3 linked regions of the Homo sapiens genome follow. The protein of the gene in region 3 interacts with the protein of the main gene of each other region in a biochemical or structural test. Each region holds a gene or a part of one and is shown on either strand. Other genes may lie near its edges.

Region 1 (7,034 bases), on a different chromosome or scaffold from region 3:
TCCAGCCACCATCTGCCTACAACTGCATGAGACCCTGAAACAGAACTGACCAGCCAAGCCTTTCCTGAATTCCTGAGCCACAGGAACTATGAAGATAAGAAAATGGTATTGTTTGAATCCTCTGAGTTATTCAAGTGATTCATTCATTATGTAGCAATACTATCCATAGCACTTTATTAGCCAAAATTATCTCTATAATTTCCCCTCATTAGTCCAAGTGCTAATTTCTCTTTCACATGATACTTGCATCAAATAAATTTGAGAAACTATTGTCTTCTGAATAGATTTAAAGTGGTCATACTTTAGATTTTCTCTTTTCTACAAAAATGAGAAAAACATGATCAGAGGCTAGTATCAGGAACAAAATAATCTTAAAAGCAAAGTATCCTCTTAAGAAGAGTTATTTAGTGTCATACAAGCCATAAAATGGCAATAAACTACTGTGAAGGTTTTTTCTTTTAATAGGTATTGGCTTCTCTACCCAGGTAACCATCTGCTTCATCATATGGTTTGCTATTTGTCATTGAAGAACAAATAAGGCAAAGACTACTAAAGTTTTCTTTGATTTACTGCATTTAAGGCAGCAGTAGATAAGTAGATTCAAAAGAAGCCAGGGCAAGACTATTTTATTTTTTGCTCTGAGCAGGTAGACTATAGAAAATTCAGCAGAAGATAAGGAATGCACACCCAGCCTCAATGTATTCGGCTTCTAACAAATGATCACTGGGGAATGTCTCTGCTTTTAGCACTGCTTCCCCATGTGGCAGGCCCTCGCTCTTCAATACATAAGGATGATAAATGACAACTGTTCATAGTCTAGCTGTTCTCATGTCATGTGCCTCTACAGTTAGGAATGTTGCTAAGGTACTGCTAACCAAAATCCTCCTATTGTTCTCATCTCTTCCGGAAAATCAAGACTTTGGGTAAAGAATTAATAGTTTCTCACTACAAAGGGCTGTAGACCACTAATTTGGCCAAATTGCCTTATCAGTAGAGGTGGAATACAGCAGATTAACTCAGCATATACACTATCATTCTGAATGTTAACCTGTAAAACTATACTAAGACTTCTCGGTAGATTTCTCCTTTCTTTCCTTATCAAATTTCTTTAGAAAACGTTAATTCTAACACAGGACTCAAGACTTACTGTTATACCACTTATAAAAAATTGTCTACACCAGGGATCAGCAAACTTTTTCTTAAAGGGTCAGAAAATAACTATTTTAGGCTTGTGGGGCTATAAGGTCTCTGCATCAACTACTCAACTCTGCAGCTGTATGGAACAAACAGCGATGGGCAATACATAAAGAAATGAATAAGGCTGTGCTCTGGTAGAACTTTATTTACAAAACTGGTAGCTGGCTGTCATTTGCAAATCCCTGGAAGCCATATGAATCTTTTCTGAAATGAAATTAGTTTGGTTAAAGACTTTTTTTCTGACGCACTGAAACTGAGCTTTCCTAAGAGGAACATAAAGTTAACAGAGCAGGAAAAAACCTGCTTTATGGTGAAGAGGTCACTTGAGCTAATCAGTGCAATGGTACAACTACAAACTTCACACAACGTTATTAAAAAAAATAACAAAACAAAAACAGATCTTACTTGAACTTTTTTCTCCCTTCTGCTCTTGCTTCTTCATTTTTAAGAGAACGGTTTCACTAACCAATGTACAGTCCATGTCCACTGTCTCTCCTCCTAATTTTGACTGACTGCCATCCTAAATAAATATTTTAAAAATCAAAAATTTTAACAATTATTCCTTTATGGTCTTATATTTAATTTTTACAAAACATTTTGGTAAAATATACATAACATACATTTTACAACTTTTAAGCATTAAGCTATATTTGCTTTTATACTTTACGAACAGGTAAGGATTTAGGTTTTACTGCTTATAAAACATTTTAGCTTCAATATAATCAAGCCTAGGAAAAGAAGGACTGCTGCCAAGGAAAGGGAGAATTATTTACCACTAAACACCCCTGAACTTTTCCTGCCTTTATTTTCCAATTTGCCTTATAGTAATGAACATCAATGTACACTAAGAACACTTTCAAAAATTAAATTAAATTTCTTGATAGGCATATATTACTCAGCGTATGTTAAATACTTTGTTATTAATATGCTACCAAGTGAAAGAGAACTTCTGAAACTACACAGAAGCTAAATACAAGACAAAAAACTATTTCCACTATGAATTTTAACTTTTAAAAATAGTCAACTTGGAAAATGAATTTTATGGTACATTATTTTAAAGGTAATGAAGACATGATGAATTATTTTAATGAATGATAAAATTATATAAGATATGCAGCATTTTGCATTATTTTAATTTATGAGACAGGGTCTTGCTCTGGTTGCCTAGGCTGGATGTGCAGTGGTGTGATCATACCTCACTGCAGCCTCGAATTCCTGGGTTCAAGGTATCCTCCCAACCTCAGCCTCCCAAGTAGCTAGGACTACAGGTATGCACTGCCATGCCCAGCTAACTTTAAAATTTCCTATAGAGACAGGGCCTTGCTATATTGCCCAGGCTGGTCTCGAATTCCTGGCTTCAAGTGATTCTCTCTCTTCGACCTCCCAGAGTGTTGGGATTACAGGCATGAGCCACTGCGCCTGCCCACTGCATTCTTTTAAAAACTATATTAATATTTTTCAGTAAAGGCCTTTAAAGTCAGAAAGTATTACCCTTTAAAAAATACCATAAAGTTAGAAGAATAAGCATTTTTATTTCTTAATTTTCTGCATAAATACATGTAGGTTTTAAGACGTATCTGATTATCTTAAGGTGATACAGTGAGTCACGAGAGGAGGTTGACTAACAACTCATTGGAATAAAAGTCAAATGAGTTTTGGTTTTACTTTTTAACTTACCTTTGTATCTATTACAGTAACATCCATTTTATACTGAGAAAGGTCTGCTCCCGGATCTATACTCCACTGGATATTTTCAAAGGATACATCTTAGGTAAAGGGAAAGAGCATGCAATTAAAAAACTGATTTCAAAAATTCTCATCACTTTAAAATATTATGGGACCTAAAGAATAGAAAATTTTTGCAAATCATATGTCTGGTAAAGGACTTATATCTAAGATATATAAAGAACTCTCACAGCTCCATAATAAAAAGACAAATATCCCAATTAAAGATGGGCAAAGGATCTAAATAGACAGTTCTCCAAAGAAGATATACAAATTGCCAATAAACATGAAAGGATGCTCAACATCATCAGCAGTCAAGGAAATGCAAACCAAAACCACGAGATGGCAAAAATCAAAAAGCTATAACAAGTGCTAGTGAGGAGGTGGAGATACTGGGACCCTCACATACTGCTGGTGGGAATGTGAAATGGTGTAGCTGCTTTGGAAAACAGGCAGTCTTTCAAAAGGTAAAATGTAGAATTGGCATATGGCCCAACAATTCCACTCCTAGGTATAATCCAAGAAAAATGAAAACATACATCCACACAAAAACCTGTATACAAATGTTCATAGCAGCATTGTTCATAATAGCAAAAAAGTGACAACTTGAATGTCAGCTAATAAATACCTAAAATATGGTATACTTATGCAATAAAAAATTATCCAATAAAAAGAAATAAAATATTGATATATGCTGTAACACAGATAACTGAAAACATTATGCCAAGTGAAAGAAGTAACAAAAGATCATATATTAAACGATTCCATTTATATGAAAACTCCCAGAATAGGCAAATCTACAAAGAGAGAAAGTAGATTTAAGGTGCCTAGGACTGCAGAGGGTATATGGGGAAGGAAAGTGATGAAAATGTTGTAAACCTAGACTACAGTGATGGTTGTACAACTCTGTGGGTATACCAAACCACTGAATTGAACATTTTAATGGGTGATTTTTATGGTATGTGATTTATATTTCAATTAAAATTTTTTAAAATTAAAAACTATAACATTGATGGGGTTTTCAATATATGTAGATAAAATACACAGGAACTACATAAAGTGTAGTTACAGAACATGAAATAGTACATTAACTCCAAGTAGATTGTAAAAGGCTAAGTAGGTAGATACTGTAATCCCTAGAGCAACCATGAAAAAAATAAAAACAAAAAGCTCAAAAAAAATCATGAATGATAGTGAAAAAAATGTTTTCATATAGAGACTAAAACACTCACTGGAAAAACAACTAATGACTGTGCTTCAGGAAAAAGGGAAAATAAACCCAGAATAAAGGAATAACTTGCCAATGAAGAATACAAGAAAAAATACTGCACTTGAACTACAGAAATGTTTGGTGGCTGAAAAAAAAAATTACTTTTTTAAAGATAGCAGGCTGGGCGTGGGTGGTTCACACCTGTAATCCCAGCACTTTGGGAGGCCAAGGCAGGCAGATGGCTTGAGTCCAGTAGTTCGAGACCAACCTGGGCAACAAGGCGAAACCCAGTCACTTCAAAAAATAAAAAAATCAGCTGGGTGTGGTGGTGCATGCTTGTAGTCCCAGCTATCCAGGGGGCTGAGATGGGAGGATCCACCTGAGCCTGGGAGGTCAAGGCTGCAAGTGAGCCGTGATCATGCCACTGCACTCCAGTCTGGGTGACAGAGTAGGACCCTGTCTCAAATAATAATAATAATAATAATAAAATATAGCAAAATTATGAAAAGATGCCTATATATCTTAAGGCAAACAATTTTTTTTTTCTTTTTTTTTTTTGAGACGGAGTCTTGCTCTGTCACCCAGGCTGGAGTGCAGTGCAGTGGCACGATCTCGGCTCACTGCAAGCTCCACCTCCCGGGTTCACACCATTCTCCTGCCTCAGCCTCCCGAATAGCTGGGACTACAGGCGCCTGCCACCATGCCTGGCTTATTTTTTGTGTTTTTAGTAGAGATGGGGTTTCACCACGTTAGCCAGGATGGTCTCGATCTCCTGACATCGTGATCCACCAGCGTCGGCCTCCCAAAGTGCTGGGATTACAGGTGTGAGCCACCGTACCGGGCCAACAATGTTTTTAAAGGAGTTTAAAAACGTATATAAGTGGCCGGGCGCAGTGACTCACGCCTGTAATCCCAGCACTTTGGGAGGCCGACGCTGGTGGATCACGATGTCAGGAGATCTAGACCATCCTGGCTAATGTGGTGAAACCCCGTCTCTACTAAAAATACAAAAAAAAAAAATTAGCCGGGCATGGTGGGCGCCTATAGTCCCAGCTACTCGGGAGGCTGAGGCAGGAGAATGGTGTGAACCCGGGAGGCGGAGCTTGCAGTGAGCCGAGATCGCGCCACTGCACTCCAGCCTGGGCGACAGAGCGAGACTCCGTCTCAAAAAAAAAAAAAAAAAAAAAAAAGAACAGAAAAATCACCGGTAAAATGTGAGAATCGTCCTATAAATACAGACACCTGAAGGAAGAAATAAGTTTTTTTCCAAAACAATTCAATCTATTTAAAAAAGTAAATAATGACATTCAATCTGAAGTCATTAAAAAAGTGGAGATCCTGTTTATGGTGTACACACCTTGGTTGTTTTGTAGAGACTTTATTTTACCAGTTCTACATGGATTTAACTGAAGAACTGATGCAAGTTCACATCCTCCATGGTCTGACCTGGTTTGTATTTTTATTGGCTCATGAGAACCAGCACTCTAAAACAGAAATAATTGTTAGCTCTAAATGAAATCACAAGCAATCATTTTAATCAAAATCCTTGAACATTTAACACAAACCTTTATGTCATCTAAAACATTCTCAGTCTCCAAACTTTCACGTGGACGTAGAGGAATTTTAAAGACAGCATTTTCTTCTTTTATTTGTAATGATGGTTTATTGTCTGGAGAGCATTTATTCAAGGGCTGAAGGATGATGCATTCCTGTGAACAGGGCTCCCCTGGGGAATCTTTGGGCAACGTGCAGTTGCCATCTGAGGCCTTACGGCTTGAGGAAAAGCCCTTTGGAATGGTCTTCAAAGCCTCATAAAGAGTCACTTGCCTAAATTTGTTTTTAGAAGTCTCACTTCCTTGGCTTTTCTCTTGACGCTGAATAGCTGAAAATCGATCAGACAGATCCAGAGGTTTATCCATCACACAGTCTCCATTCATGGAAAACTGATTATCCATTGGAAAAGGGAAAGCATTTTCTTTATCAAAAGAAGCTTGGGGGCAGCTTACTTCATGTTCACTTTCTTCCTCAGTTTTCTTCCTTTTGGATGTTCGGCCTCCCAATGATTTCAGGGGCTCCAAATGTTTATCAGTGTTAGAATCTTTACCGTACTCAGTCCTATTCTGTTCACCTAGGGATTCACTTATATTTTTATTTATAAGTATCTGTTTATTAGATGACTGGATAATGATCTTGTTCACTTCAGACCCAAGACTGTGATGTGTGAAAAGGGCACTATCTTCAGATTTTGATCTAGTTTTTTCTAATCTAGATATACAAGTGTTGCTAAAAGGGAGTGTTTTCAGATGTTTTTTTTTCCCAGGCTGTAAAAGAGAAGGGGACAAACTTGTATTCAAATCTAAACCACTTTTGATACTAGAGGTAGCTCCAAATACAGGAGATGACACTCGAGTAGGTAATTCTTCTTGAGGAGGAGTCTTTGAAGTAGAATCTGAAAATCTAAATAAAGAGTGATAACAATTCTTTAATACAGAATTAATAGTAAGGTCTTATCTACCTCTTAGAAGCAAATGATTAACCAAAATTTAAGACAAGGTACAGCTTTTGGCTTCTCTTCATTTAGATGACAAAAGAGAAGGGGAAAAGCAGAGGAAAATGACATAGGAAGTATTTCTCAACACCATAATATTCATATTTTAAAAATTTTTCCTAAGTACTTTAAATAACTTTATTATACAAAAAATCATCTTTTGCCAGGCGCAGTGGCTCATGCCTGTAATCCCAGCACTTTGGGAGGCCAAGGTGGGCAGATCACTTGAGGCCAGAAGTTCGAGGCCAGCCTGGCTAACATGGTGAAACCCCATCTCTACTAAAAATACAAAAATTAGCCGGGTGTGGTGGCACACGCCAGTAATCCCAGCTACTCTGGTGGCTAAGGCACGAG
Region 2 (4,612 bases), on a different chromosome or scaffold from region 3:
AGCTTAGTTATAGTTATAATCAAACAGTATTGAGCATGGTCTGCCAGGTAACTGTTCTACATCCTTTACGTGGAACATCTCACTTGAGCCTAGTAACCCTATATGTAGAAACTGTGGTTACCCTATTTTGCCACTGAAGGAATTACATACAGAGAGACACGGGCATTCAGAGAACAAGTCACTTGCCTAAGTTGTATGCTAGCAAGTGGTCGAGCTAACGTCCAACCCAGGCAGCCTGACTTCAGAGCTTTGCTTTTGATCATGCTTACGAGTATCACGGGATTTAGTACCGACCAAGCACACAGCAGTGTGACAGCCCCGAGCTCGCCTGTGCAGCCTTCCTGGGTATCACTCCGTTCTGCCCGGAAAGGCACCATTCAGGCCGTGAGTGTAAACGTACGAGTGGGCAGGGGGAGTGGTAGAAACGCCCCTGCTGATTGCAGGGTTTACTCACGTATTTACCTTAACGCCCGTTCTTCTGCGACTACTATAAACATTAAATGAGATAGGGGATCAGATGTCACCGTGAAACAATGTCAGGGAGTGGGGTGGGGCTGGGGGGGATTTTTGGGGCCATTCAGCCCCATCGTGTCTGGACAGGGAAGGTGAAGTGAAGAGAGGCTGCCTCCCCAGAGCTGAGACAGGACAGACTCGGTCCTCTCCCTCTGCTGCAGGTGCTCTTCCTTTCACCACTCAGCTTTTCTTGAAATGAAAGTTTGAAAGTTTAGCTTTCAGAACTAGCTGTGTGGCTTTGTGCAAGTCACATGTCCTCTCTGGGCTGTATCCCCTGCAGTAGGGAGAATAAATGAAACTAGAGAAACCCTCTAAAGTCCATCTCACTAGGATTCTAGGCTTCTGGGTGTTTGGGAGCTTGGGTAAAGAATCAGAAGGGCCTGTGCTGGAGAAAGGACCTGTTCACTCGCCCAGCCCCAGACATTCAGGAGGAGGCTGTCACTCACTGGAATGACTGAACTCTGAACCCGTGCGTCTGTTCCCTCCCGCTGGGCTCACTGAAACCACTGAAGCAAAAGGGGTTTCACTGCTCCACACCACACTTTCACTGCTCACAAACTACTTCTCCCTTTTTGAAGGACGAGTCTCGAATTAAGGCCACTGTGATGGACGTGAAGCCCGTGGACTACAGAGAGTATGGCCGAAGGCTGGTCATGAGCATCAGGAGAAGTGCATTGATGTGAGAGGAGCAGTGCCAATCGGGCAGAAGTTTGCAAATAGGCAGAATGGAATCGATTTCCTCCCACCTCCGTGTGACGATCCCATGTTAGCTACACAGTGCAGAGGCTCTTGATGGTGGACTAAGCAATTTCCCCCCTCGTGCGCATCTCAGAACCCATCGGTAGGCAAAGGAAAATACGCTCAGGTGGTTGTGGTGTAGACTGTGTCAGGCCTACGGAGTCAGCCAGTGGCTAGCGCAAGACCAGTCACTCCCTCTGCCTTCAGGCTTCTGTCAATTTCATTATCATCAAGCAGGAATTATGTCGTAAGTCACTGACCCTAACTGCAGACCATGAAGTAAATTATGTAACTAGGTTTTTGCTTCTCCAGTGGTGACCACCCCCCCCCATCCCCGCTCACAACTTGGGTTCTTCTCAGCGGGGCGAGCTGAGAAGCGGTCATGAGCACCTGGGGATTTTAGTAAGTGTGTCTTCCTAGAATTCGAAGGCTCTCTCTTTCTAGAGGTGCTACATAGTTGGTAATGCTTGGAATGGCAATAGGGTAGAATGATTAATCAAAGGCATATCTTCTATATCTGAAGAGTATCCTTCCTTCAGGGTTTAATAGACTGAGTCAGATGGGTCTGATATTAATCAAAATTGTCTCTTCTGAGGACCGCTGATAAGCATTGACTTGCCGTCCCCTAAGGAAATCCGAGCGGCTACAAAGCGTTTCTTTACTTCTCACTTCAATTAATGCTGCGCTTCGCTTGGTGAGTGCGTACTTTTTCTACCTGTACACATTCCTGCATTCATGTATTTTGTTTTTTTTGACTAAAGCTATGTTACATGGAAAGGATTTTGAAGCCTTTTGTTTCCCTTGCTTTGTTTTAATAAACAGTATATTCTTTGGTTGTGAATCCTACTTTCTTTGAATGCAAAGAGTTCCTATAACTGGAAAGCAATTAATTAGCCTTCATAATAAATGTTCACTTGGGGGGGATGTTAACTCATTATAAACCCGAAGATTAGTCCAAGGCATGGAGATCCTTCTTCCTAGTGTTTGCAGCCCTGAAATGCATCTTTCAAAGCATGAAAACACTAAAAACAAAAAGCCATTTTGCCTGAGGATGCTGATGATCTGGCACTTGGGATTTTATTGATGTTTACGCAGCAGTCTAACACCAACCACGCTTTGAAATGTGTACAGACAGTGAGCTGGTAAGAAAACAGTAATTATGCTAGTGGGCCTTTCAGTCAGCAAAAGCATGCTCGCTCTGTGTGTTCCTAATCATATTAATTATCTATCCGGTGGCTGCAACACACCGCCTGCCATTGGCCGCACATCTCGCCGTCGTACCCCGGCAGTGCGGCGGTCACTCTGCAGCCAGAGGACCTGCTGTTCATCACTGCACATGCCGCCTGCGGAGGCTTTTGGATATGGGGAGTGATGGTGTCCTGTCTGTCTCCCCCCTCGGTGTCTGCCGTTGACATAGGGGCCAGCCAGCCCTAGACGGGATGACTTCCGTTCCTGAGGACAGACACAGAGGGACTCCTGCTCAGCCTCACTAATTGTTTAGACACATTCCTTCCTACCCTTCTCTAGTCTCAGGAGATGGTAACTGGGTCGCATTTCAGTCTCTGACTGAGGCCTCAGCCATTTTTACGGAAGTTCTTTTCTGTCTGACCTTGCTTATAAAGCATCGACGAGAAAATTACAGTCTTCAACCCTCTTCTGGATTGACAAATTGTGGCTGGGAAGTGGCGATCTAGCTTTCAGCCCAGTAACCAGTCTTTCATGCCTACTACTCCCAGCATTCCCTCCTCTCCCCACGTGTCTGTCCACACAGTGAAGAGGCCTGACCAGCCGTGGTACCAGGACAGGACGTGTCCAGGGAACGCTGACACCTGTCCTCGCGCCTTCTCAGTGGCCAGCGTGATGAAACCAGCACGTCTCCGTGGATGTGATTGGGAACCCAGGGGCAGTGCCAGGGGGAGGGCTCCCTCGAGGAGGCTGTTTCTAACAGATTTCCCCACTCAAAGATCAGATCACCAGCAGAGGAGCATCAGAAACTGGCTCCACTGTTGGGCTTTTCAGAGATTTTGGTCCCTGCGGGTTGCCTAAATAGATTCTGGCCCACAGTTTACCTCGAAAGGCTGTTGATGTTGTTCTGTTTCTCCTCTTTCACTTAGAGATCAATGTTGATTTTGCGTACACCATGACATCAGCGTTAGGCAATTAGGAGAAAAAAATCTAATCATTTCGCCTTTATTTCAAGTGGTTCTTGAATTCCCTCCAGTCTCATTGTGAAAGGGGCAGGGAAAAAAATAAAAGGGTAATAATCTGATTTCTGTCCATATTTCCAGTGTTTTATGCTTTCCATTAAAACCTTGCTAATCTCTCGCGTGCTGTTCCTTTTTTGAACTGCAGGGTCAAAAATGTTCCCCTCCCCCACTTCTGTTTCCTGAGTGGGCTGTCTTCAAAAAGTATAAATACTATTGATCGTGGTATTTAATACACTAATGAAACCCATGGTTATTGACTACATAATTAATATACTGTCCAAAAGTGAAGTTTGGCCGCCCAGTATGTAAAGGTTTATATTGACTCATGTTTCTTTGGCAATATGCCGCCCAAGGTTTTATTTATAGAGGATGAAACAGGTTGTTTGGTCTCCTTTTCTTCTTTTCACCTGTTAGAAGGCCACTATTCCCCTAGTAAACTGATTGTTTCCTTGTCTCAAAGGGAAGATTCCCCCCACTCCCCGGCCACCTTTTATGTGGTTTGTTAACTCTTAGTCTTATATCCACTCCGCTGGTAGAGTTCTGGCTTTTATAAACACCTTTGGAAGTCATCGGTTCCTCAAAAAGAGAGCATAGATGTTTAATTTTCACTTATTCAAAAAAACTGGTATTTTTGTTATTAAGACATTAAGTAAATGTTTAAGAAAAAAAAGGATAATTTGGACTATTGACTTTCTTATGCAAGTAATCATATTTGTTTGTTTGTTTGTTTATTTATTTTGAGACGGAGTCTTGCTCTGTCACCCAGGCTGGAGTGCAGTGGCACGATCTCAGCTCACTGCAACCTCCGCCTCCCAGGTTCAAGCGATTCTGCCTCAGCCTCCTGAGTAGCTGGGACTACAGGCATGTGCCACCATGCCTGGCTAATTTTCTGTATTTTTAGTAGAGACGGGGTTTCACCGTGTTAGCCAGGATGGTCTCGAACTCCTGACCTTGTGATCCACCTGCCTCGGCCTCCCAAAGTGCTGGGATTACAGGTGTGAGCCACCGCGCCCGGCCTCCATGTTTATTTTAGGAAAATAATCTACAGTTAAGAAAAACAAAATTGGCCTGGCACAGTGGCTCATGCCTATAATCCCAACACTTTGGGAGGCTGAGGCGGGCAAATCGCTTGAGCCAAGGAGTTCGAGACCAGC
Region 3 (7,201 bases):
ATACAAAGAAGTTTTTTATTAAACTATGAATGTCTGTAAACAGAGAAAAAATACATATATTTATGTATATTATACCTACAAATAACTATATCTCAAGAAGTAAAAAGGTAGGGAAAGTCCTTCTCCTATCCATCCATCTAAATTCTACTTAATCTTTCAAGATTAAGTATGTTTCTCTGCCCCGATTCAATCTCACAGAATCTCAAAATTGGGAGGAACTAAAAGACCAGGTCCAATCTTCCTATGAAGGAAGGAATGTCTCTTACAAAATGAATGCCCTGTCTTTGAATATTCTCAGTAAGAGCTGACTACCGGGGCTAGGCGTGGTGGCTCATGCCTGTAATCCCAGCACTCTGGGAGGCCGAGGTGGGCGTTCCACGAGGTCAGGAGTTCGAGACCAGCCAGCCTGGCCAACATCGTGAAACCCCGTCTCTACTAAAAATACAAAAATTAACCAGGTGTGGTAGCATGTGCCTGCAATCCTAGCTACTGGGGAGACTGAGGTAGGAGACTCACTTGAACCCAGGAGGCGGAAAGTGCAGTTAGCTGAGATCACGCAATTGCACTCCAGCATGGGCGACAGAGCGAGACTGTCTCAAAACAAAACAAGACAAAAAAAACAAAAAGAGCTGACTACCCATTTTATTAGCAGATGGCTCTGATTCTCTTCTCCTTTTATATTCACTGGTGGTTCTTCTGACTTCCCCCATCCCCCAACACTATTACAACTTCCGCTTTACTCTGCTATAGATTACAGATTGTTATTTGAGTTCTTTTCATTTGATTATATACTTCCTGTGGACAAGTATTATCATTTTTGTTTTTCCATTCCTTATGGTTTTATCTAGGAATCTTCTTACTTCTTCAATCTCAGTTTAAAGCCCTCTTGAGTCAATAAGGAAAATGAAACTGGTAATCTAACCAATGAAAATACCTTAGCAATATCCAAAGAACCATAAGGTTTGGCACCTTTATTCCTAAATATACTAAAGATTTGACACTTCCCGGAAGAGGCAGCCCTAAACTTGACTTTTTTTTCCCCATGGTGTGACTTCCTTGAACTTGTTTTTCTTACCTTCAGCTTAATGATTACTTTGAAGAAAACAAAACAGTTCAGTATTATCTACATAAACAGAAGATGCTCATTCACTGATAGATGCAAACAATATTTACTACTTATAGCTAGACAAATAATGAACTAAACAGATACAAATCCTACCCTCATGAAGTCATATCTGGGCAGCAGGGTGACAATAAACAAGTAAATTGATAAACCAATGCATAATTCCAAATTGTGATGTATGCCTCTGAGGAAACAAAAACACAGTAATAGAAAATAACTGTAGAGAGAATCATTTTAGATAAACTGTCAGGGAACATATATCTCAGAGGAGTTTATAATAAAGCCAAGATCTGAACTAACTGGTGCCAATCAAAAAAAGGGCTAGAGGACCAACACTTCAGGGAAGGAGACTAGCATAGCCAAAGGGTTCTACAATGTTAAAGAACACAGTATGTTGGCGGAACTGAAAGAAGGCAGAGGAACTATTAGGTAGTCAACTAGAGTATGAGTGTCACCATATAAAGATGAACTTCATTTATACATTAATCCAGAATATCTAGGTTCCACTCAAGGTTCAAACGAAAAGATAAGGATTTCCTACTTCCTACGAGCCTCTGAATTGACGAATTCAGTGTTCCTTTTTAGATCTCAACCAAGTTGACCCCTTTGCACAACTTGACAATGACGCTTATATCCCATCTTCCTAGAAATAACTCTGCCCTTGGCATGCCATTCTTTTCTAGTGCTAAGGAGTGTGGCCTCTGTAGTCAGATTGTATTAGTTCAAATCCTGGTTCAGCCACTTACAAACTGTATAATCTAGAGCAAGTTCACTAATCTCTTCAAACCTCAGTTTCTCAATGATAAAAGGAAAAACAATACTAGTACCTACCTCTATGAGTCCCTTTAAGGACCCATATACATGCTTACAGTGCCTGAAACACAGCAAATGTTAGCAATGATCATATTAACTTCCGTTATGACTGTTTCGAAAGTCTCCTGATATCTCTTCTTCCGCTCATACCTCAAAAACAGCTTTGTTTTCTTGGTCTCATCCATTCCTATGACTTCAGCAGCTGAAAACCCACAAAATATATTTCATTCAATGCCAGGCCTCACGCTGGAGCTTCAGGGTCCTTCTACACTTTGTGCCTTTACACGCATTTTTCCTTCCATCTGGAAGGCTTCTACCATCTGCCAAGGTAACACTGCGAGGTCTCACCACAAACTGAATTGATAGTCTCAGGCTGAGTTTGCAGAGAACCAAAGTCACTCCTCTACCATCAGAGTACTCCCCTATCACCACATACATTATCATCCACTGTAGTTGTCTTATCTGTACCTGGTAAATACAGCAGCTAACGCTCACGAGTGCTCACCACAGGTCAAGATTATCTCACTTATCTTCACAAGACAGTAGAGAGCGGCCACACGACTGACAGAATTCCAATTCCAGCCGTATGATTCCAGAGCCCAAGCTCTTAACCGCGAGGCTGAAGTTGAAATATCAATAAATGCTCGCTGACTAAAAGTACTAAATACGAGAGAGAGATCAAAAGATGACTAGTCAAGTCGCGTAGTTAAATCTGAACCCTAAGGTGACACAAAAAGAGGATGCGCAGGAGGCAGGGTTCAATTCAGGGCGTTTAAAAGGAGGAGGTTATTGGCCAAGTCCGCTAAGCACCCGGAGAGAGGCCAGGAAAGATGGAGTGAGGAGAGGGAGGAGTCAAGGGCCACTCTGGAGGGGTGCATGAGATTGGCGGTCTGGGGAGAGGACAGACTGGGTCGCACACGACTGAATTTCCCAGCGCAGAAGCCGCTGCGTTGCCTCCGCGCCCCTACCACTGCACTCGGAAGGTCAAAGTAGTATCAACCGCGGCGGTGGCTGCAGCGCAGATCCCGACTCCTCTCGCCTCCTCCCGCGGCCACGGCTTCTTTTCTCCGTTAGCCACGCAGCTACCTACTCCCGCTTCCGGTTCAAACCCTGCGTGACTGCCCAGCGCCCACTTCTGGAGGAAGAAGCAACGCCAAGCAGCCGCAGAGCACGGTATGCCCATGCGCATCCAGTATCACGCGGTCTCCGCGCTCAAAACACTGCCCCAAAACATTCGGCCCGTCGGAGCAAACGCGCCTGCGCCATGTCCACCAATGGCCAGCGACTTAGCGTTTGCGGCTCGCCCTTCGGCTCGGGCTCCGGGGCTCTCACCCACCCTCTTCGCCCTCGTCGTCCTCCCCGCCCTCCTCATCCCCGCCCCTCCAAGTCTGAGGACGGAAGTGACGACAGTTCCGAAGGCGAACGGAGGCGGGTTTCATTTCGGCGCCTTTCTTTCTCTGGCGGAAGCGATTGGCTGCCGTGAAGCGAAAGAGGCGGGACAAATTGCCGCGAGTTCAGTGCCGCCACTGGAACCAGGAGATGCGGCGCAGGAGCTGTCGCTGTGTTTGCTTTAACCTGAGTCTTGTTCCTTATTGTGGTTCCTGCTGTGGTTTTGATCATGTTGTTACCCTCGGACGTAGCCCGGCTTGTATTGGGTAAGCGCGGACGCGGGATGGAGGGTTATTGGACCCGGCTATGCTGGACAGAAGGACCTTTGAGGCCAAAGGTTTTCCCTTGGTAGGGAAGCTTTGGGGTTTTGCCTCCCAGCTTACGAGTTGAGACTGGCGGTGATTCTTCGTCATTCGGAGGTTCTGGGCAGTTTAAGCCTCTTTGTATGTAGATGCTCCTCTCTTCAGAGGCTGCGTGGCGAGGGGAAGCCCGAGGGGAAGCTCGGGGTGGAACACCTGGGGCGGATTCGGAAGGAAAGTCAGGCCTCCACACTTAATTAGGACCCCTGAAAGAGCATTTGTCTGCATGACGGACGGATTGCGTGTGCTTCAACCTTGGGCGCAATTTCCTTGGTTCAGTGTTGGGACCAAAATAGGGCAAATAGGGAGTTCCCCGGCCCCCCATCTTTGTAGAGAGACCTTCCTGGCGCCCTTCTAATAACCCGCCCTTATAACTACGAATTTGGGAGTAGGGGTGATCTTCCTTCTCCATCCTCCACGCAATACGTCGTCCAGTGTAGAGGTGTGAAATGCCAGTTGCATATTTTAAAACAGCAATTCCTGTTCCTTTGATCAGCGAAAAATTTCAGAGGGTTAATTGCCTTAAATTAGTTGAACGTTTTCTAGCCCTAGTTTTACCTTCATTTGAGGAGGGATTGTTTGTGGGTCACTTGTCTGTCAGGGTGTATTGTCTGTGTGAGAGACGGGTTTTGTTGTTGTTTGTCCCCTGAAAGAATAAAGAGGATTGTACTACAGGGGACGAGAGCCAGGTAAAGCTCAAAACCCGAGCCAGTAATTTACGGACGTCGTATGCGACGTCCCTAAAAGTAAATGGCAAGCATCTGTGATGAAACCTCCCATAGTATTCACAGCCATTACTACTATTATTTTATTGTTCGGAAAACCCATTTGTCTTGTGCCTCTTTTAAATGCCCAGCGCTGTCCACAAAAATGTTATTTGCGCAGGGCTCTTGATAAGCACATTTTGCAGGAAACGTTAAACGGAAATGGTTCCACCATCCATTTTTGAAGAAACTTAATGACAAGTTTAATGTTTTGTTAATGTCTGATTAATCTTTTGCTTAAGAATTCTGAGTTTTGGCAGTTTGGTAATCTAGTTGAGTTTCGGTAACTATAGTCTTAAACATGGTTTCTCAGCCTCAGTACTGTTAACATTTTGGGCCTCATAATTCTTTATTGTGGGGAGCTATCCTGTGCTCAAACATTGTAGGATGTTTAGCAGCATTCCTGGCTTCTATTCACTAGATTACAGTAGGACACCCGTTCCCCACCCTACCCTTACCCAGTTGTGATCAGTGAAAATGTCTCTAGATATTGCTAGTATGTCCCCTGGAGGGCAGAATCACCCCTAGTTAAGAAAGCCCTAAGAAAGCAGTATCATTTTCTAATTGAAATAATTCACATCGATGTGTGAGTATTCTTTCTCCACAAACCAGCTACTCTGCTGACTTCCTGCTTTTCATTTAATGGACAAAAAACGCCAGCCATGGTTTTCTTATCTTAAAAATCTTTGTCATTCACATTCCATTTTCACTGCCACCAATCCCGCAATGTGCCTGCCATTACTTCTCTTTTGGACTTCTGTCATGGCTTCCCAGACAGTTGTCCTCGCAATTCATTTTATTTACTGTTGTTACAAATCTCCCTGAAGCTTTCACACTATACCTTTTAGTCTGAAAGTTGAGATAATTCTATTCTTACTAAAAATTTCAGATGGGCAGGAGTATACAATACAAAAAAGCCTCCCCATGCCTAATGCTCTTACTTTTGTCGTTTATCATTTTACATCTTAAATAGATACATATCGTGTATATCTTTCTCATATGAGGTTTATTATTTACTCATGATTCTTTTCCTATCAGTACCCCCTCGCCATCTTCAGCTCCTCTTGTTATTGGTCCCTTCATAATGTTTTTTTTCTAGCAAATCTTTGGGTGCCTAGTATGTTCCAAACACTGTGCCAATTGCTGAACATAGAGAAGTTAAGTTTTCTCCCCTTAGTGTTCAGATAATTAGGTTTTTTTTAAATTCTTAAACATACACACAAAAAAACACTTTTCTGGACCCCACTAGACATTAGACACCCATTAAACAGAACATTCTGTCTTATGTTCTGTGTCACCCTTTCACAAGTCAAATTTATTCAAAGAACAATGAATTCCACTTAGTTGCTGTTCTTCACCTACCTTTTATCCTTCAGGATACTGCACTCTGACTTTTGCATCTCACTACTCCACTTAAGTAGCCCTTATTGCCTTGCTGGGATTTTACAAAATGTTGTGTGGGCCAGAATACATCAAAGTGTTTGTTGCCTCTGGGCCATCAGTTCAGTTTTTATCTATTTATTCAAGGTGCTCTGTGGAACTGATCCTACCTACCTCTCCAACTTGATCTCAACTTCCTAACATCTGTTTTATGCTGCAGACATGCCAAACGAATTGAAGTTTCTTTGAAAATTCTTGTATGTATTCTACTTCTCTTTGTCTTCCTAGTACACTTCTATTCAAGGTTCAGGTCATGCCTGATCTCTGAAACTTCATTCAGCAAGTACAGTCAGTACTTCTTAAATGTTGCCATAGCATTGTACTTCTGTTACAACCTTATCATGTCTCATTGTAGATGTGTGTTTACTTTTTTTTGATAAAATATACTAACAAAATTCAACACTTAAAAATGTATAGTTCTTAAAGCCCAAAACAATGAGTTTGTTGTTGTTGTTGTTGTTGTTGTTGTTTGTTTTTAATGTACAGATCAGTAGTGTTAACTATATTGACATTTTTCTGCAACCATCACTACCATCAGTTTCTGGAACTTTTTCATCTTCCCAATTTGAAACTTACTTGGTTTTTTGTTTTATTAGTAGTCTTAGTCATGGATGAATGGACAAGCTTCAAGAGTTCTGGGAGTCCCCAAAACTATCATCTGTGAAGGTTTTCTTGAATAGATTTGTTACCTTCTGTATGAGACAGCATGCAGTAAAAAAAGTAGAAACCATTCTGAGTATTTAACATGGAAAGATTTAATGAGAGAATTCGTTTACACTGGTGAGAGAAAAGCTAAGACGCCCAGCAGCTTACAACTAAGGCATCTCAGTGGTTAGCAACAGTAGGAAGCCACTATGCTAATGAGAAGGATAAGGAGAGAGGAAGCAATCAAGAGGCTGGTTTGACTGCGGAACGTGGAAGACTTGTCTGATGAGGGAGTGGTAGTCTTAGAGGAGACTCTACTGAGGCAGAAAGGGAATGGGGGAAAAATATGGCTGCTTCCTCCTGCCCTCCAGCCTCCCACCAGTGCTTCCTATTTACTGAGCCCAGCCAGTAGCAGGCCGACAGAAGAGCTTGGGGAACATTGCCTATATAGAGTCAAGCTTTATGTCATACAGTAGAGAGCGACAGAAGGGTCAAGAACGTGTTTGAGGTCAAACAGGACCAAAACTGACACACCCCTAACAGGTCAAGAGCTGCTGGTTCTATTCACCTTTATATCACCAAAACATAGATATTTAATAAAACATTTGCAAAAGTATGGCTCTGATTATGACACTCCTTTGTTTATTTAATAATATATGTACTCATTG

The links.
Region 1: of the proteins of ATM (region 3) and RBBP8, one has a biochemical effect on the other in vitro, tested with the Homo sapiens proteins (4 studies listed by BioGRID, with this or other methods).
Region 2: the proteins of ATM (region 3) and RPA1 form a complex in vitro, tested with the Homo sapiens proteins (3 studies listed by BioGRID, with this or other methods).

What each region holds. Positions count from the first base shown.
Region 1 is NC_000018.10:22,992,303-22,999,336, reverse strand, and holds part of RBBP8 (DNA endonuclease RBBP8), read right to left. Parts: intron 6,590-7,034; coding exon 5,698-6,589; intron 5,617-5,697; coding exon 5,490-5,616; intron 2,964-5,489; coding exon 2,875-2,963; intron 1,718-2,874; coding exon 1,603-1,717; intron 1-1,602. UniProt on the Homo sapiens protein: Endonuclease that cooperates with the MRE11-RAD50-NBN (MRN) complex in DNA-end resection, the first step of double-strand break (DSB) repair through the homologous recombination (HR) pathway.
Region 2 is NC_000017.11:1,895,980-1,900,591, forward strand, and holds the end of RPA1 (replication protein A 70 kDa DNA-binding subunit), read left to right. Parts: intron 1-1,091; coding exon 1,092-1,196; 3' UTR 1,197-4,103; downstream 4,104-4,612. UniProt on the Homo sapiens protein: As part of the heterotrimeric replication protein A complex (RPA/RP-A), binds and stabilizes single-stranded DNA intermediates that form during DNA replication or upon DNA stress.
Region 3 is NC_000011.10:108,218,890-108,226,090, reverse strand, and holds the start of ATM (serine-protein kinase ATM), read right to left. Parts: upstream 3,025-7,201; 5' UTR 2,905-3,024; exon of another isoform or gene 1,955-2,904; intron 1,308-1,954; exon of another isoform or gene 517-1,307; intron 1-516. Other genes in the region: protein NPAT, read left to right, coding at 3,555-3,591.